Regions from separate parts of the Homo sapiens genome. Here region 2 is linked to region 1. The links come from fine-mapping of genetic effects on gene expression. Tissue or cell type: caudate. Region 1 holds a variant in brackets; the other region holds the start of a gene. All regions are shown on one strand. Distances are from middle to middle.

Region 1 (10,520 bases):
GATAGTGAGTATTGTGAGATCTTGTTGTTCAAAAGTGTGTAGCACCTCCTCCTCTCTACCTTCCTCCTGCTCAGGCCATGAAAGATGTGTCTGCTCCCCCTTCGCCTTCTGCCATGATTGTAAGTTTCCTGAGGCCTCCCGAACCATGTGTCCTGTACAGCCTGAGAATGGTGAGCCAATTAAACCTTCCTTTTTGTTTTTTTTTTTTTTTGAGATGGAGTCTCGCTCTGTCACCCAGGCTGGAGTGCAGCAGCACGATCTCAGCTCACTGCAAACTCCGCCTCCCAGGTTCACGCCATTCTCCTGCCTCAGCCTCCCGAGTAGCTGGGACTATAGGCGCCCGCCACCACACCCGGCTACTTTTTTGTCTTTTTAGTAGAGACGGGGTTTCACCGTGTTAGCCAGGATGGTCTCGATCTCCTGACCTCGTGATCTGCCCACCTTGGCCTCCCAAAGTGCTAGGATTACAGGCATCAGCCACCGTGCCCGGCCACCTCTTGTCTTTATAAATTACCCAGTCTCAGGGTATTTCTGTATAGCAGTAAGAGAATACAGCACCCCTTTTAAGTGTACAGACTGATGAGTTTGGAGCAAATGTATATGCCTATGTAACCATCGCTTCAATCAACACCTCAAAGAACATTCCCTCACCCAAAGAGCTCCCTCATGCCCTTTTGCAGTCAACTCTAACCCTGATGCCTCTGATTTCTATCACTACCATCTGGTTTTACCTGTTCTAGGACTTTGTATTAATGGAATCATACAGAATATGCTCTTTTCTTTTATGGCTCCTTCACCTCAATATGATGTTTCTGAGTTTCAGCCATGTTGTTGCTAATATCAGTGGTCCCTTCTTTTTTGCTGCTGAGTAGCATTTTGTTGTATAAATGCACCACAATTTATCTGTTCACCAGCTGATGAACATTTGAGTTGTTTCCAGTTTTTACTTGTTACAATCAAGCTGCTATTAACATTTGTATTACAGGCCTTTCTCTTGGGTAAATACAAAGAAGCAGTACGACGGGCCAGAGGGTAAGCGTGTTTAGCTTTAGAAATTGCCAAACTGCTCTCCAAAGTAGCTGCACCTCTTTATACTCCCACCAGCCATGTCTGACAGCTCTAGTTGCTCCACATCCTAGCCAACATTTGCTATTGTCAGTCTTTTACATTTTAGTCATGCTGATGGGTGTGCAGGTGTGCCTCACTGTAGTTTAATTTAGAAGGTCTGAAATCTGTTTCGTTCAGTGTGTAACTTTTTCCTCTTTCTAAGGAACACAGGCAATGTGGTATACTGAAAGGTCGCTGGATCAGGGTCGTTGTCGTAAATTTTATCACCAACTTTGTCATTAAATAGTTGCTAACGCCGTAAAGACCATCTATCCCACCTCATTTCTTCCCTATTGATAAAATAGTTAATTGAGCCAAATGAGGCTTAAATTCTTGTACTAAGTAAAAATGAACATCAATAAGTTTTACCAAAAATATCGCAGTACTTTCATAATAGTTTAGCACTTTTTTTTTTACAGACTGTCCCACAGGTTTCAAAGAGAATTTGTATATTAATATATTCTATTTCATGCTATAATTCTCTCCCAAATACCACACTTTTTTTTTAAGGAATAAGAATTCATCAAGAAAGGAGTTCCATTCAATGGAAGGCTCCCTCCTTGCCTGCTGCTTCCAAGCTAATTTGCCAAATCATGAACTTTGATGTGAACATTAATGCATTCCGTTTATAGTCATCTGAGTTTAATTCCAAATTGTACCTGTTTTTAAAAAACGTTTCTGATTCCAAAAGCATAAGTAATCATCCTTGGTCATGTATGTTTTGCTCACTAAGCTTTAAATTGTGGAGTGAATCAATTGGCAAATCTTTGGATTTCATTTGATATCTGCTGTATGCTTATACAATATCTCTTTACTATTGTTCAGCCTCGTATATCTAGCAATGTAAAAAAAACCAACCAAATCCCCAAAGTTAGTCTTCACCTCTCTGGGTTCTCATAGAGCAAGGTAAGGGTAAAGTAAAGGTGAAGGCATCGTTAATGATAAAGGAAGGAAAATATCATACATTCTTTATGAGAAAACTTTAGGAGTTAGAAGAAAGGGTAACTAATGATTTTTTAAGAGGTTAACCTGGAAAGGTTAATGACCAACTGAATTGATGGCTTTATTCTTCTAATTAACTAATGATCAAAGGTGAGGCAGAAATGCATGGCAAAACTGAAGGAAACTAGTTTTTTCAGTTCCAAGGAAATATGCACTAAAATAAAAAAAATGTGCAAATAAAACATCTGGTGTTTGTAGGAATACATGGGAAAAACTCAACACTTTTTGTTGTCAATTCCTGTCTAAACAAACAAATTTTATACTGCCTATCCAAGATTAAGATTACACTTAACAAAGGTTTCCCATCTCTTGTTCTAAAGATATCTCAAAATATGCCAAGAAAAAAAAAGTAAACTTTTTATTGCTGACAGCAAAAAAGACACAGGTTTCAGTGGGAGGTCTATTTCAATAGGAATGGGGGACACTGAGTTGCAGCTAAAAAAAGATCACATATTAAAAATACATATGCAGTGTACTTCAAAGGGCCTCTTACCTAAGGGGGAAATGAAGAATAAAGCCATCAATTCAGTTGGTCATTAACCTTTCCAGGTTAACCTCTTAAAAAATTTAATGAAAGTTATGGTCCAGTCTTTCCAGAAATGATTATATGGTTTTGCACAGTCCCAAAGGGTCTGGCTCTCTGAAAGCCTTCTGTGGAGTCTTTAAGGGTTTAAGAACCTAGGTTGAGGTGAAGGATTTCTGATTAAATGAATTCATCAATGAGATTTTGTCACTGAAACTTGACCTATATCCAAAAACAAGTAGGCAAACCTCTCTCCAATCCAAATGCCAAATACATACATGGTAGAATGTGAAGATGACTTTTTTAATTCCAAAAATTATTTAACATTCTCACAGGAAGTACGTGTTCAGAGGCAAAAAGTGAGCTGTGGGAAGACAGATGCTCCCAGACATCCATTTCCCAACCATTGCTTCCTGAACATCAAGGTAAGCCAACAAGTCTGAACAGTCATTTGAGGGGGTGGTGTCAGTTCCTTCCATTTCTAGAATAGGTCTTTTCTAAAAGGAGGTATTCATTGTGGGGCACAGAGGGAGGAGTATGAATGGCTAACAAAAATGTTTGTGAGCAGACTGAAAAGTGTTATTTAATTTGGAAAAAAATTCAGAACTATAGGTGAAAAGAGATAATTTGGGAACTCTGGGTTATAAGTTATGTGCCTGTCTGTGGTAGGCAGAATAATGGTCCACAAATATGTCCATGTTCTAACCCCCAGAAGCACTGAATGTACCTTATATGGCAAAAGGGACTTCTCAGATATGATGGGGAGATTATCCTGGATTGTCCTGGGAGGTCTGATCTAACCACAAGGGTCCTTATAAGAGGGCGTCAGGAGATGTAGAAGGCAATGTGATGATGGAAACAGAGGAAGAAAAGGAGATGTGATGTGAAGCCATGAGCCAAGGAATGCAAGCAGCCTCTAGAAGACAGAAAAAGCATGGAAGTGAATTCTCCACAAAAGCCTCCAAAAGAACAATGCCCGTTGACACCTGATTTTAGTTTTCTGACCTCCAGAACTGAAAGAAAATAAAATTGTGTTAGTTTAAGTCATAAATTTAAACAACTTAAGCTTAAAGCAACTTAATTTGCTATAGCAGTAATAGGCAACTAATATAGTCTTTCCTAAAAGAAAAAAAAAAGGAAGGGGATGTAAGGAAATAAAGAGAAGTATGAAACAGCATGTGAAAAAGCATTTTCTGATGAACAACAAACACTTGCATCAACAAGACTGATACTGTCTCAAATGTGGTCCTGAGCCAGCAATATATGGGGAAGCTGAGGCTTAATGGAAAAACATTAGGAGTTAGAAAACCTGGGCTCTCATCCTCACTCTCCCACATACAGCTGTGTCATCGCGTAAACACAACCCCTTTGGGTCTCAGTGACTGATCTGTAAAACAAAACATGTAGACTAGATGAATGATAATCTCTCCTTAACAAAGGCCAGAGGGCTTTCCCTACAGACTGGTTCAAACCAGTGGTCAGTTTTCCCATAAACCAGTTCCCATAAACCATGTCTTATTTAATTAATAAGAAATGAATGGGCACATTTGTCCCACTTTAAAGCTTCGGCAACTGAGGCTTAACAAGGTCATATTTGTCCACCATCACTGGAATTTGAATGCAGGCATTTCGGACTGAAGATCACCTTTTTATCCAGTGTACTTGCAGCATTCCCCGGTCAAGTTTCAAGCTGTGCGCCCAGGGGTCTGAGATAGGTTAGAATGCAAGAGCAAGAGAACACCACCAACACAAACCAGGATCATAAACATCCTAGAGAAAATGAAAGGGAAAAGGGGGTGCTCTGGTGAGAATGTTGATGTCCCCCTGAAATTCATACATTAAAACCTAGTCACCAATTTGATGGCATTGGGATGTGGGGTCTTTGGGAGGTGATTAGGTCATGAAGGCAGAGCCCTCATGAATGGGACTAGTGCCCTTTTAAAGATTCCCCACAGAGCTGCCTTGTCCCTTCCACCCTGTGAGCACACAGCAAAAAGGCACTGTCTACCAACCAAAAAACGAGCCTCCCAAGACACCAAATCCAATAGTACTTCGATCTTGCATTTTCCAGCCTCCAGAACTACGAGAAGTAAATTTCTGATGTTTATAAGCCACCCAGTTTATGCTATTTTGTTAGAGCAGCCCAAATGGACTAAGACAGGGGCAAAGACCAAACTGCCTTATATTCAAGCATTTGAAATGTTGGGCATTCAGGAACGATCTTTCTAAGATCACTTTTTAAAAGAAACAAAAACTTTCAAGACTCCAACTGGTCCCCGGGGACAGACCCCCACTGTTCTGTAAGGCAGAATGCCATGTTACAAACCAGTGAACCGTCTTTCCTCCATATTCAAATTCCACACCGGACCTGATGCTGCTGCACCAACTCCAGTCTTCACGGTTCACAG[G/A]AGGAGAATGGAAGGGCTGCTGCCCAAAATAGTTTAATAAGGCCAGCAGTGATTCAGAGAGTAATAACAGGCCACGCACGCAGACGCCTGCAGAACTGGGACCCAGCTGAGAGGGGGGTTCGCTGCTCAAGGTTAAAATGGGGAATAAAGAGGACAGGGACATTCAATTACACGTGTTCAAAGGAGAAAAGATCATGAGTACCACCTGCAAACTCCCAAAAAGGCAGTCAAATAAGAGGCATTTCAGCTTGACAATTTAGTAACACTGCTCTAGAGTCAAAAAAAGAACCAACCCATGAAGGTAAAAAGCAACCTTGCCAACATACACCCTTTAGAACATTTTCTCTCTCAATGGACTCTGATTTGTTACTGAATAATTTCATGGACATAACAATATGTTAAGTTTATGAATATTTAAAAAGATGCCCAACATCAGGAGAACAAAAAAAATCCAGAAAAACATCGAGAAAACTTTATTAACAGTCTCAAGCTAGTCTAAACCCCAAACAAGATTCACCCTACCATGCAAAACACTTAAATCATTAATATTTCCGATTATGCTTCCATTCCCAAGAAAAACTAGTAATTGAGCAAAACTCTAAGCTTGTGTAAAAAAGAAATGTTGCATTTCTATCATTTATTTATCTTAAACTCCAGTTGAGGCAAGTATTTGCCTATGCTCTCAGTTCTGATCATAAGTTGATATTTAAATAATTAGTTATGAGAAAAGCAAACCAATGGGTAATTCCCAAAGTTACTATCTGCTTTTGCTATCAAAGTTTGGAATTTCAGTCAAATATACAGCGAAACATATATACACAAGAGCTATGCCACTTAGCATAAATAGAGTAAAACAACAAATACTAAGATTTGTTGGCATTAAATCAGTTTAGTCTATAAATACCTTTATAGATGACATTAGAAAAGCAAAGTTTAAGAATGCAGATAGACCATGTGTGTAATAGCTCTAAAATAGGAATCTGATAGGAAGTTAATTTTCTCAGCTGGAGCCAAGAGTTCAAGCTTGTAACTGATGGAAAATAAGGTCATATTGGAGCAGTCTTTTACATGAAAAATTAAATCTCACCACTTCAATACAGGCCTCATTTTAAAAACACCAGTATCAATCATCTCAACAAATTTTTATTCAAATATTACACAGATATGGCATGTTCAACACTGATCTTATTGACAAGTGTAAGCCTGCTTTGCTGGATGTCTCAGAAGCAATAACCCTTTCATTATAATCCTTTCTTGTGTCTGAGTTTTAAGCTTTAATGACAGATAACCGAGTTCCTCAGATCAAAGACACAATAATAGCCGGGAATAGAACATAAGTGAAATGAACAGTGTCAACAACACAAAACAAAACACCTTCATTTACTGGTAGAGAATAGAGTACCTGCTGTGCCTAAATGGAAAACAACCCTCATATACTGCATGTGTTATCAAAAACATATCTATCTTTTGGCCCCCAACCACTAGGGAGTAGCACAAAGTACATTAGGGTTTCAAGAAGTCTATCATGCAAGCTGATCTTCTCAAAATCGGATTAGAAATCAGGATGAACCATATCAAGGAAACTCAGCATAACTACTTAGACGGCTTTATCCTTTAAATAAATGCTGTAAAATAGAGTTTGTCATACAGCTTACTTTTGAATGGATCTTTTCTGGAAATATTTCACCCTTCAGAAGTGATATAATGACACAGGTTTGAATTAGGCCAATTTTCAGTTATGTCTTCTGTTCCTTGGCTTGGGATTCAACATCCTTGGACTTTTGGCAACAGGCAGATGGAAACGCCAGAAATTATAATTTTGCTGAAATGCCTTCTTTCTGGGGGACTTAATTATTTCTACTGCATGGGTTTGTTTCATTTTACATAATGCATTTTCTTAAAAATTGTATGTAGCCATTTAAAATGACTCACAAGAACTTTTAGTGGCTTTTCCTTTAAGCCCCCTTTCAAAAAATATGTACAAGGTTGCTCATCATAAGGTTGTTTGTACTAGTAAAGAAAGGAAAACATCTCAATGCATAGAAAATTTGATAAATAATTTGTAGTACAACTACATAATAACCTATAAGACATCCATTAAAATGATAAAACAGGCATGAGGGAGGCTTTTTAATTGAAGAAATATATATTCACAAGAAGTTGCAAAAATACTGCAGAGTGGTCCAGTGTACCCTTCACTCAGCACCCACCAATGGTAACATCTTATGTATAACTACAATCAAAAACAGGAAATTAATATTGGCACACTACAATTAGGCTACACAGTTTACTCAGATTATGGTAAGCTACAGAACTTACTCAGAAACTCACCAATTTTTACATGTACTCACTTTGTGTGTATGTGTATATATGTATTGTATATATTTCCATAAAATGTTATCTCATATATATTTATGTAATCGCCACCACAAACAAGATACAGAATTGTCCATCACCACAGAGAAAACTACAAGGGAACTTTTTACACTACTAGAAATGGTCTATATCTTGACCTGGGTGGTGGTTAGGCCATATACTTCAGTTATACAATTTAGATTATAAAGTATGCTTATATCTAAAAAGAATGATGAAAAGTTCTATTGATTGATGGCACATTAGGTTTTTTTAAAAGTTACAAAACAATATTTATAGAATGATTCAATTCTCACATGTGTCTCTATGTGCCTGGGGGTGGGGTGGGGGAACACCAATATTTAATTTTCTTCTACAAATTCTATTTTATGTATTCTGGCATCTATTTTGCAATGAGTATGAGTTGCTTTAATAAAGCAGAGAAAAAGACCAAAAAAAAGGTATGTTCTGTATATTCTCGAAGAAGGAATCTTTTTTTTTTATTATTATACTTTAAGTTTTAGGGTACATGTGCACAATGTGCAGGTTAGTTACATATGTATACATGTGCCATGCTGGTGTGCTGCACCCATTAACTTGTCATTTAGCATTAGGTATATCTCCTAAAGCTATCCCTCCCCCCTCCCCAGGAATCTTTTTTTTTTATCACCATTTAATTCATTCTTAAGATTTCTTCTGGTTGAAAACTACCATCTTTTGTATCACTCCCCTAAAACACAACCTCTATCAACTTCATAATGAAGGGGCCTTAAGTTACTGGTTCCAGTAAAAGATAAACTTGAAAAGTTCTTCCCCATGAAGCTGAGTGAGTAAGTAAGAACATATGCGAATATTTCAAAGGAAGCTGAGACAGTGAATACAGGCTGTTACTTAGGGCTAACTTTTCCTCTCACAATCCACAAACATGAATACGTTCTTTCAATATAACCTTTAATGACCACAGACTATGTACTAAAATTATGCAAAGGTTCTCCAAGACCTCAACATGCACAAGACAAAGATCTTGCTCTTAACAAGGTCAAAACTGCAATGCAATACAATGGGCCAAGTTCTTAACACCACCAATGAGAATAAAGTCCTGGGAGTATATGGAGAAGTAAACAGCCAATTCTGTCTAGGAGTGGGAAAGCAGAATGACTCTGAGAAAGGAAGGACCCTAGCTGTGGGCCTTGAAACCTCCTATTTGGGCTTCTGCCAGGTGGCAAAGAGAAAATGAAAATAGGGGAAAGAGTCACTCTAGTCACAGAGACTGCCTGCAGGCACAAATACTTTGAGGGCCTGCTGGAGAACAGGTATGTAGAAGTTAGGGAAGATGTGAAGGGATATGATTCTGGAAACAATCGTGAATAACATGATAAAAGTTTGCCTGCATTATCCTATATGCAGTAGGAAACTCAAAGGCTTTTAAACAGAGGACTAGACTGGTATCAGTATCAAAAGTGAGTTGGAATGAGAGAATGGAATAGGAAGATAAATTATTGAGCTCTTAAAACTATATACCGGGTGAAAAACAATGAGGTCCTGACTAGAGGCAGCAACAGCAGTTGTCATAGAAAAGGATACTGTATTAGTCCATTCTTGTGCTGCTAATAAAGACATACCCAAGACTGGGTAATTTATAAAGGAAAGAGGTTTAATTGACTCACAGTTCAGCATGGCTGGGGAAGCCTCAGGAAACTTACAATCATGGCAGAAGGGGAAGCAAACATGTCCTTCTTCACATGGCGGCAGGAGAAATGCCGAGCAAAAGGGGGAAAAGGCCCTTATATTATAAAACCATCAGATGTAGTGAGAACTAACTTATTATCATGAGAACAGGATGGAGGGAACCTCTCCCATAATTCAATTTTCTCCCACCAGGTCCCTCCCACAACACGTGGGGATTATGGGAACTACAATTCAAGTTTTGTAGCAGCTTTGGGTGGGAACACAGCCAAACCATATCAGTAAATTTTTATTTCAATTGTTTAACTATTATGAATGGGCTCATTCTGTATATAATCCCCAATTTGACTTTTATGTTCAACATTATTCTTGAGGTTTACCCATAAGGATACATATAGTTTTAGTTCTTTCTGCTTTATAGAATTTAATTTACTGAGTCCATTATAGTTATTTATCCATCTTACTCATGGACATTTAGGTTGCTTCCAATGTTTTTCTCTAACAAACAATACAGCAGTGAACAGAGCATACATGAGACGTCCCAATACATGTGCCACACTTTTACATATCTGGAAATAGAACTGGAGGTTTATGGTGCTATCAGGCATAAAACATGAAACACCTTAAACCTAACTAATTACTTATTACCAAATCATTCTCCAAGCTGGTTGTTCCAAATGATATTGCCATTAATAAAACATGAGCTCCCATCTTACATGTCTTTGCCCATACTTGGTGTAGTCAAACTATTTAATTTGAACAAATTTGTGAGTGTAGAAACGATATTCTTGTTCTGGTTTTATATTATGCTTCCAGAATCGAAAGGTATTTCCAAAGTATAATCCATGAATTAGGATGTGGACAGTGAAGGACAGAGAAGAAAACTATGGAGTGTTCTGCTTGGGTAACAAAAGTAGAAATATCTGTTAGGAACTACATTTAACTGCAACCGATAAGATACTTCCTCCTTATCTCCAAATGGTGGCCTAAATATACAAGGGCTTATTTGCTATGGGCTGAAAGTTTCTGTCCCGCCAAAACTGGTATGTTGAAACCTAATCACCAACCTGATGGTATTAGGAGTTGGAGCCTTTGGGCGGTGATCAAGTCATGAGGGCTCCCCCTTTGCATGGGATTAATACCCTTATGAAAGAGAGCCCAGAGAGCTGTCTTGCCTTCCACCACGTGAGGACACAAAGAAGGCATCATCTATGATGCAGGCAGCCCTCACCAGACACTGAATCTGCCAGCACCTTGATCGTGGACTTCACAGTCTCCAGACTGTAAGCAACCCATTTCTATTGTTTATAAATTACCCGGTTTATGATATTTGTTATAGCAGCCTGAACTACTACATTGCCACATGAAAATCCACAGGTAGGCATTCCAAAGCTGATATGGCAGCTTCATGGTTATAATGACCAAAGATCCTTCTATCCCAG
Region 2 (10,520 bases), 46 kb after region 1:
CACTTTTAGTAAAATGCTGCAGTCATCTGAATGTTTATTACGCATCTATCTTGTGCCAGGTTCTGTTCTAGCCCCAAGATAAAACAGCGAACAGGGCCCAAAGGAACTTCTGGACTACACATTAGGGTCACATTAGAATCAAACTTTTTTAGAAATGCCAGTCCCGTCAGCTAGCAAATAGATAAATAAAACCGTGGTATATACATACAATGGGGTATTACTAGGCAATAAAAAGGAATGAAGTACTGATACATGCTACAACAGAAATTAACCTTGAAAACAACATACTAGGTGAAAGAAGCCAGACACGAAAGGCCACATACTATATGACTCCCCTTATATGAAATGTCTAGAATAGGCAAATCCATACAGGCATAAAGTAAATTAGTGGGTGGGGATTAGGGGAATGGACGGGCAGTATGGGGAATGACTGGTAATGGGTGCAAACTTTTTTAGAGGGTGATAAATGTTTTAAAATTATGGTGATGGTTGCACAACTCTGAATATACTAAAATCCATTAAATTTTGTACCTTTAAACGGATGACTTGTATAATATGTGAATTGTGTCTCAATGGTGAGTGGTGAGCTATGAGTCTAGACAGGGAAGCAGGAGCCAATTCAGAAAGGGTCTTTCAAATCTGCTTTAAAATGTGAAATATTCATTGATCCATAAAATATTCACAAAAATTCCATTTGAATTCCATAACAATTTTAGTACATTTTTAGTAACAGCATTACCGTAGATATGAAAAAATAGTACATAACATAGGCAAAATATTTATTCTACAGACAATGATTACTACATGTGTGAATTTGAGATCTCCTTGCAATATCTCCTTGGTCCAAAGATGAGAGCAACCAGAACAGGTGCTTTTCATGGACTTAACAAGGAATTCTGTTACTTCGACATAAAATGATGATGGCATATTCTATTGCTTCATCATAAAATGATGATGGCATATTCGTTGTTTCATCATAAAATGATAAAATACTGTGGATCAAAACAAATCAGAAAACTAGAAAACAAAATGTCACATTCCAATTAACTTTTCACAGAATACTCTAACAAAATTTAAGCAAATATAATTAATACTTTTTTCAATTGAGCAGTTACTATAGATAGGACACCATGTTTAGTGATGTGAGGAATAGAAACCTAAGGAATACACACTCACCCTGCCTTCAAGGCATTTAAAATCTAGTAAGGGAGGCAATAAGTTTGAATACATTACTAGCACAGGAGGCAACAGGGTGAGAGGAATAGGGGAAGATAAAAGGTAAGAAGTGCTGAAGGAAGGAAGGACATCAGCAACAGAGTTTGTGATCAGAAACTGAACTGGGAAGTTTCTCATATTTTAAAAAAACAAATGATCTGGGAAATTGGGTTTAGAGAGATTATGCTGACAAAAGCAGTTTATGAGTTCAGCTTTGAAAGACTTAGGTTTTCACACGGAGAGAACAGAGAGCTTTCTAGGCAACAGGAGTGCATGGACAAAGGCAAAACGCTTTGTTGATTAATAAAACTCAGACTACCAGCTCACAGGGGTGGGGAATGATAGGATGAGGCCAAAGCTGAGCCCAGTCTGCTGGATCGTGACTTTAGGCTAAGGAATCTATATGCAAATAAGTAGAGAAAATAACTTGGGGATTGAGTCTGAGATCCACCATATGTTAGTTGCAAAGCAGTTGTGAACTTAACTTTTCCTAGCCTCATCTGGAGACTGGAGATATAATAACAATGCCTGCTTTGATATTGCCCTGAGGATTAAATGCAATAATGCATGTACAGGAACTTCTGACAGCACCCGGCACATACAAGTTCAGCACCTATTACTACTGTTATTAATGTTATTATTCACTATGTAAGCCACCCAAGAATTTTTAACAACATAATGACAGTGCTTAAATAATTTACCTGACCATGGAAAAAACAGAGACAGAGGTAGGAAAACCCACCTGTAGACAATGTTAGGACAGAGTGCATAAGTCCCTAAGACCCTGAACTAAGATGCTGCAGGGCCTCCAGGAAAGGACCAATGTGAGAGACACTGAGACAAGAGTTAGGGTGAGCCTGAAGGTGATCTGAACAGTAGTAATTGGAAAGTCAAAAAAAAAAAATTCCAGAAGGGGCCAGAAAGCTGATGAATGTGTAAATTTAGACAGGAAAGGAATGTGCAGAGAACCATAAACAACTCTCAATTATGCATGGAAGACTTTTTCCACCTAACAGTTTCCATCTTCCCTGGTATCCTACACCTCAATCTCTTCCTCAGGCATTCTAGGTTGCAGGGTTCTCCAACCCTCCCTGGAGTACTACTGAAATAGAATTAACAAATAGGAAAATACAGTACTGCCGAGAAGCACATTATAAATAAAACTGCATTATCCAGACTCTTATGCAGGGGGAAATGTTACACCAGCACCCAAACTGGAATGAAGTGGAAGAAAGAAGGAATCACTAATTCCTTCCCCATCCTCTGTTTTGCCATGAGCCCCTTAGGTGGTACCCATGCCACTCTTCCCCAACTTCTCACCCTCAGTGTCAGCGTAAGAGTAGAGAGTTGAAATGTAGTTGTTTTACTGAAAGCCTACTGCAGGAGCTTTTGGAATTAGTAGCAGTTTCTAACTCTCTACTCTGCATTAGAGAACAGAGGAACTAGCTGGCTTTCCAGCGCTTTCTTTAAGAGGTATAAAGCATTACTGTTCAGGGTTCATTTACCACAATGGGTAAAACAAATCAGATTTCTCTTTAGATTTAGATGAAAGGAGGATTTCCTTTCCTTCTGTATTAAAAGTCCCCAGTCTATCAGGCCCACAAACCATAAACCCAAGCACAAAAATCAATGGCAGTAAGAGTCTCAGGGATTCTGAAAACAGTACATCTAGACACTTGATATCAGCACCAGAAAGTTTACAGCCCAATCTCAGATGGTTTTAATATTTGTATCACTGGATTCTATCATGAGTTAACATCTAATTAGTGGGGCGAGAATTGAAGTCAGACTATTAAAAAATCTAGCTCAGCAATTTACTGGTGACCTTAGGCAAGTTCCTAAACCTCGTTTTCCAATTCTTCACCTGAAAAATGGAGATAACCTCACAACAATGCCCAGCAAGACGGTGAAAATTAAGCTTACGGGCAGGGCGCGGTGGCTCACGCCTGTAATCCCAGCACTTTGGGAGGCCGAGGTGGGCAGATCACAAGGTCAGGAGATCGAGACCACCCTGGCTAACACGGTGAAACCCCGTCTCTACTAAAAATACAAAAAATTAGCCGGTCGTGGTGACGGGCGCCTGTAGTCCCAGCCACCCGGGAGGCTGAGGCAGGAGAATGGCATGAACCCGGGAGGCGGAGTTTGCAGTGAGCCGAGATCGCGCCACTGTACTCCAGCCTGGGCGACAGCGTGAGACTACGTCTCAAAAAAAGAAAAGAAAAAAGAAAATTACAGCTTACTGCAGCCTGGGAGTATCTGGCTTATGATGTAACTATTAACGATTACTGAAAATATATCTCAATAATAAAACAGTAAATCTTTTGGCTAAGCCATAGCTTTTGATACAAATAAAGCTAAATGCCTATTAACTAATGGTGGAAACCACATTTTAGTTTATTCGAAGAGGTCAAGCACAATAGAGACAAAATGGGCTGGAATCCTAGTTCTGCCAGGATAACCTTGGCAACACAGGTTAACCTGCTGGACCCTCAATTTCCCATCTGGTTAAAAATACCTAGCTAACAGACTTCTGTAAGTTTAATGCGGTAATGTACAAAAGTTCCTAGTATTGCTATTTGTTAATTTTCCCAACAGTAAAAAAAGGATAAAGATGAAAATCAAAATCAGCTATGAAATCCTCATTCCTCATATTTACAGAGAAGGTTTCATTTATTCATTCTATAAATGTTTACTGCAAACCTACTGCGTGTTCTTGACACAGGGGATCAAGTGATGAACAAGACAGACAAGGTCTCTGCATTCCTGGTACTTACATCCTAATGAGGGAAGGCAGATAACCCAATAACCCAAAGAGACAATTTCAGAGAGAAATTTAAGTGCTATGAGCAACAGCAAACGGGTGATGTGGCTTGGCTGGAGGGGATGGTCATTTAGCTTGGATGCATAAGAACCTAGGCCTGCTTGACTGATCTCCTTTAGCCAAGTATAGTCCTTTAGCCAAGGACCTCACCTTGTATGATACTTGCGGGGTACAGTGCAGATGATGAGAAGCCAGGCCTTCGCTTTCACCCATCTGTGGAAGTATCTCTTTTGCAGCTGTAGTTTAAAATATTTCTAAATGCCCTCATCCCAATACTCAAACTCTGAGGGTCAGAGCAACACCTAGGGGGTCTCAAGCACCTCTGCGCAGTACGCAGACACATGGAAACCGACAACTTCACAGTCCCCTCAGCTCCAAGAGTCCCGACTGAGGAGACTGGTGGCTTGTGAGGCGGAGAAGGACAAGCACAAGTGTGCAGAAGGCAGCAAGCAAGTTGCGTTGCCGAAGGAAGGGCGGCGCGCCCCTGCTTAAGAAGTATCTGGACGACCTGCGACAGTGCCCATCAGCGACTCCAGAGGCCACAAACGCTCCCCGGGAAGCTGGGCAGCGCTAAGAGGCTGCCTGGGAGTTTCTGGCTTATGATGACAGTACTTAAAGAATTTACCTGACCACGGAATAAACAGAGACAGAGGTAGGAAAACCCAACTGTAGACAACGTTCAGACAGAGTGCATAAGTCCCTAAGACCCTGAACTAAGACGCTGCAGGGCCTCCAGGAAAGGACCAATGTGAGAGACACTGAGACGAGAGTTAGGGTGAGCCTGAAGGTGATCTGAACAGTAGTAATTGGAAACTAACAAAAAAAAAAAATTCCAGAAGGGGCCAGAAAGCTGATGAATATGTAAATTCAGACAAGAAAGGAATGTGCCCTGGGCCTCCAGCCCAGCACCGGGGAGCTGAGCAAGCCGGGGTTGGGAAGGCGGGCGAGCGGAGCGCCTGCCCCGCGAGCGTTGTCTCAGTCTCTCCGGCGCGCCCCATCCCGCGGATGTGGTAAAGCTTCGCGCTCGCCCCAATTTACCAGGCTTCCTGAGCCTCTAGCCCCGGCGTAGCGCCTCCCCGCTGCCCAGGACAGCTCCGCGCGCCGCGTCCTCCCGCACCTGCGCCGCGGCCCCTGCGCTCGGCTCCTCCTGGCGGTCAATCCTCTGAGCCGTCCCTCGAGGGAAGGTGTCCTGGGGTGGGTGAGACCCGGGTCCTCCTTCCCCGGGAGCTGCAGCCGGCACCCAAGCTCCCAGGCTTGGGTCTGCCCCAGGGCCGGAGCCTCCCCGGGCGACTCGGACAGACCCCGGTCCGGCAGAGAACCGCGGCGCCCCGCAAACAGCAGCCCTTCCGAGCCCGCGCCGCCGCCAGGCCCCCCGACACCCAGGCCCCATTTAGGCGGGCGCCCCGCCACTCACCTGAGCGCTGTGCAGCCGGAGACGCTCCCTAGTTCCCCGGGGCCGGGCTCCGGGGTTAGCGCACAGAACCGGGAGAAGGCAACCCCGGCTTCTCCGGTACCCCCGCAACGTGCAGCTGACAGCTCCCGCACCGGCCGCAGGAGTCGGGGGCGGGGATGGCCACTTGCAGACAGACTGCGGGGCCGGAGCCGCGCTGCGCACCGGCCGCGAAGCGCTCAAGTCCCCTCTCCCGGGCCGGCTGGCGGGCGCCACCAGCACGCGGCCAGTTCTGAGTACTTTGCCCAGAACTTCTCGGCGCGCGCCGCCCGGCGATTAGCCCGAGGAGCCGCGCAAGGGCGGGAGCGCAGGGGAGGGGCCTGAGAGGCCCAGGGGCGGGGCCCCGAGGGGGCGGGAGGGCGGCAGAGTGATGCACAATCTCACCAATCAGAAGTCGCCTTTCGGGAAGGAGGTGGGGCGATGTCCTCGGAAGAAGCCAGCGGATTCCATGACGCGGCGGGGGAACTAGGGACCCCGGATTCCGGATGGGTTGGGAGGGCGGAGGGAGGCGAGTCCTGCGGCGAGGCACTGGGTGGGGCTCCCGGTGGCCCAGCTCGGTGCCTGCGCGCGGTAGGCGTTCGGTAAATGTTCCTCTAGTGGCTTTTCCGGGCCAGGGAAGGAGGAAAAAGTGAGGGCAGCGCGGGAGGGGCAGGTTTACGGAGAAGGCTCCAGGGGACCCTTGCGGTCGCACAGGCTAGGAGAACTCGACCTCCCGAGAAAGTCAGACTGTGGCAGAGGAGTCGAGAACAGAGGAAATACATAGGGAGGCAGCACTCTAGGCACGAGATGACAAAGGACAGCATCAGTGTGAGACCCGGGGCTCGGAGACCGTGACCCTACCTCCAGAGGCAGTCGTGCAGATTCGTGCCGGGGTGATTTTGTTCTGTGCAGTTTATGTGCAAGGGGGTAGGAGGTGGGGAGAGCACCGTCGTTACTATTAAATCTCCCTGAAAGACGGAAAAGTCCACCCGACTTGACTTCCCACTAGCCCAATGGCCTTCTTTGATCCTAGGACGAATGCAAGCAGCTGATGGTTTGGGGTCAGTTTGCAGACTGCAAATGTGTCGAGTGCCGCAGGTGGCGGGTGGGAAGGGCATGAGCATTTAGTGAGCACCTAGTATATGCCAGGAGCAGTTGCGAGCTTGCAACTGTGAGAAAGGCGCACCAGGCTCCAGTACTCACGGGGCTTGCATTTTTTGTGGAAAGACAGACAATAAAGAAGAGAAAATACATATCTATGCAAAAAATAAAAGGCTGACAGACTGTTAGTACTGAGAGGAGGGCCAAGTCCACTTTCGAAAGTGGTTTAGCGCGTGATGGGGCGCTCACCCTGAGGGCCTCTAGGCGAGGGTGGCTTTTACCCAGATTCCTGAGCCTGGGAAAGGAGCTGCCACACCCAGTCTCGCACAGAGCGTTCCAGGCGAAGGGAATAGCAAATACAGGGTATTTAGCCTCCCTGAAGACCCAACTAACCGACCTCACCGAGCTGGGCACCGCGCGTGGCTCGCTGGGCTCAGCGCCTGGGACGGAGTAAGGGCTCCACAGTGTTAAATCCCCCTGCCAACCACCACCTGCAGCGCTCGACGCATTTTCAGTCTCCAAACTGACCCCAATTCAAGGTTTCTGAGACTCTTTCCGGAGCTATTCTGTTCACATTTCATTCACCACGCTCAGATCTTCGCTTTCTGGAACCATCCCCCTCGCGAAATGTCTGGGACTGTCTGTTTCGGATCTGGCAGGCGGCGGGCGAGGGCGGGAGGCGCCAGAGATGCTGCCGAGCAAATCCACTGTCATGCTGCCCACGTCGGCACACGGAGAAGCTTATTGGAGAAGATTTCAAATCGAATGACTCCGCGGTTCCTAAACCACCTCGCAAAGCCCGACCAGCGCCAGGTGGCTGGACGGGTAGTGGAAGGACGCGTCTGGCAGGCGCGCGGACCGTCCAAGGAGGCACCTTGCCCACGCCCAGCCCCGCCGTCGGAGCAGCTTAGACTGGGTTTTCCCAAACCTCCTTCCGTCTTTCTGTAATTTCTCTCTGAGAGAGGCTTGCTCTGTCCTCCTCCTGCCAGTCCCTTTCCTCGTTCAAGCTATTTTCTTTCTTTTTCTTTTGCTCTCCACCTTCAGCCTCTCCGCCTGTTTCTTTAGCATTGGTTTTTCTGTAGGAGACAAGCCTTCAATCCGAAAGGAAGTGATTTGCATAGGGCTTTGTTGTTTAGCATCCCGTTCCGAGCTTTTTCATTAATGTCTTCCTAATCAAATAATAATAGAGTGTACATTCTCTCTCTCTCTCTCTCTCTCTGTGTGTGTGTGTGTGTGTGTGTGTGTGTGTGTGTGTGTGTGTGTACTTGAGGCAGTTAATTGGACAGGATGAGAGAATTATTCACATTGTGCCTTGTCTCCAAGTAAAGGAGGAATCGTACTGTGGCTTTTCATAGTTTCATTTCCTCTTCTACTCCTAAATAAACTTCCAGGCTCTCCAGCTCCTAAAATCAAAAGGAAAAAATAAAAATAAAAGTTGAAACCCACGCAGAGCTAATTATTCTTGAAAAAGTTTGTTAATGTTCTAAAATCAGCTTTCTCCTCAGCGTCTTATTTTAAAATAACGATTTGAATGTCTAATAAAGACCAGTGGTTCCATATTAAGAGTTCCTAGAGACCCTCTTCTTTGAACTGTTGAACAAATAATTTTTCTCTTTGGAGACAAGCCCACCACAGTGGGAATTTTTCACATGTGACACAGTGGTCTTAGCTTCTGAAATTGGTAATAGGTAAGCGGGTGCTACTTGAGTTTGCATGTTTTGATAGTAAAGGAAACTGAGGGCCTCTAGAATCAGACTACCTCAGTTCCTGTCTTGTGATGACCACCTGATTCTGCAATCACCTTTCCTTGTCTGTAAAATGGAGATATTTATGTAGCTGCTGGACTACAGGAAGAGTTTGATCATCCATTTGCAAACAATTTCCGCATAGTCTAGTGCAGAGTTCTCAACCTCAGCTCTATTAACATTTTAGGGAGATAATTCTTTCCTGCTGGAGGTAAAGGTTGGGGGGGTGCTGTCTTGTGCATTTAGCAGCATCTCTGGCCTCCACCTACTAGATTCAAGGAACACCCTGTCCTCCCCAGTTGTAACAACAAAAAATCTCCAGACTTTTGCCAGAAGTCCTCTGGAGGGCAAAATCCCCCCTGATGAGAACCACTGGCATAACACATAGTACGTGCCTGCAGGAGGCGATATAGGGAAATGCTTATGGATATGGGTTTCTAAGGTGTGAACCTCAGGCAAATTTTGTTTTCTTAAGCCTCATCTGTAAAATAGGAATGATAATAATGCTAACTTCTTAAAGTTGTCTAAGGATTAAATACAATTGTGAATGTAAAAGCAATTTGCATAGTGCCTGGCACATGGTAAACTCAAAAGACTCAAAAGCTTCTGGTCTCATTTTTTTTCCTGTGAAGAGAAGGCATTGGGCTAAATTAGGGATGACACATCTTGACTTATTTGCTGCCACTTTCCTCCCGCCTTGTAGCAGACATCATTATGGCAGTCAAGGCTGCCTTATCCGCTAAGTCCAAATAGAGCCTCAGAATCGTTCTCAACACTGCGAGAAGCTGCCACTGATAGGCCAAGATCAGCATGTAAGATAATGCTGAATTGCCATTCTGGGGCTAGATGAACTTTAAGATCCCTAATAGTGTCAGTCTTCTGATATGATTACAAGTGAGGAGGAACTATTGTTTATCACTTCATCAACTTCTTTTATGAAGGGGTGGCGGAGCAAGGCCCAGAAAGTTGCTAGTGTCTTGACCATAATCATACAGCCTATGAATGGTCAGAGGCTAAGTCTCCTCTTAAAGAGCCATCTTTTTGCCACATCTACTGCCTATGGAAAGTGGGAAAAACACTTGTCTAAAGCAGAGTTGCCACCCTCTCCACCCTGTACAGCCCTACTCATCTTCTTCCTCCTTCACTTTTATCTGAAAAATGAATCAAAGTATTTAGTTGCATATGAACACCTTGTAAGCATTCTTTTACAACTGTTAGTATAATTCTTGACAAGGATTGTTCAAAAATTCACCAATTCCTTTATTAAATATAGATTGCCTGCTTTGTGTAAGGGATCATTCTTAGCAAGCACTTTAAAGTGAATAAAAATGAATCAGTGAGTGTCCCTTCAGTGCTTTTGTAGTTTTCTATATTGGGCAGATCAGATGTGGACATAAATAACTACAACACAAGCTAAAAAATGGAAGATGTCCTAAGAGGTACCAAAAATGTGTTCAGAGCAGAGAGAAATTATTTTGGGAATTAGGAGCAGAGAGCCATTTCCTGCATGTCTTTGTTAACGTTTTTAACTTTTGAACAAAAATGTATTTATTACAGTAAAGTTATCCTTGTAGAGGAAGTTGCAACATTGTTAGTTTTCCTGGTTCAGATATATTTCCTGCTTAGTTTAAGTCAATACGATCAGTGCAACTAAAAGTCACAGATTATTCTAATTCTAAATTGTTTTTCATCAGCTGTTTACAATTTCTGGGACATTCTAGAGGAAGATTGCTCACCTTTAGTTTCCTTTCTTTTCTTTTCTTTTTTTGTTTTTTTTTTTTTGAGACAAGATCTCACTGTTGCCTAGGCTGGAGTGCCGTGGTGGTGTTCCCAGACCAAACTAAGTGTTGGGCTGCTATTTCTCGTGGCCCAATAATGAGATGCAGATGAACTGGGGAGGAAAAGAGTTTTTATTTTTGCAACTGGGTACGGGGAGAAGGCCTGGAGATCATCGCCAGACCAACTCCAAATTACAAAGTTTTCCAGAGCTTATATACTTCCTAAGTTATATGTCTACATGTAAGTATGCATTCATCTAACACATAAGTAATTAACTTCTTTTAATCTGTAACTAAGGTCTGAGTCCTGAAGACCTTCCTCTGGAGCCTGAGTAAATTTACTTAATCTAAATGGGTCCAGGTGCTGGAATGATTACCCTTATCTTGTCTCCTGCTAAAGCATGGAAGTTTGGGGAGTTCCTTCCAACCCC

What was found. PIP is the estimated chance that this variant, and not a neighbour inherited with it, causes the effect.
Region 2: OSBPL3 starts here. The variant in region 1 is fine-mapped to the expression of OSBPL3 in caudate (GTEx, PIP above 0.99). The same link has a PIP of 0.9 or more in nucleus accumbens and thyroid.

Annotation. Positions count from the first base shown.
Region 1 is chr7:24,927,999-24,938,518 of GRCh38, forward strand. All of the region lies in intron 1 of OSBPL3 (oxysterol binding protein like 3), which reads right to left. Among named protein-coding and RNA genes, the nearest start is that of OSBPL3, 47 kb to the right of the region's middle. The variant G/A (reference allele first, on the strand shown) is at 5,041.
Region 2 is chr7:24,974,436-24,984,955 of GRCh38, forward strand. It overlaps OSBPL3 (oxysterol binding protein like 3), which reads right to left and starts at 5,743. Exons shown (of 23, transcript NM_015550.4): 1 at 5,451-5,743. RefSeq lists silencers at 5,133-5,342, 5,393-5,902 and an enhancer at 7,043-7,212.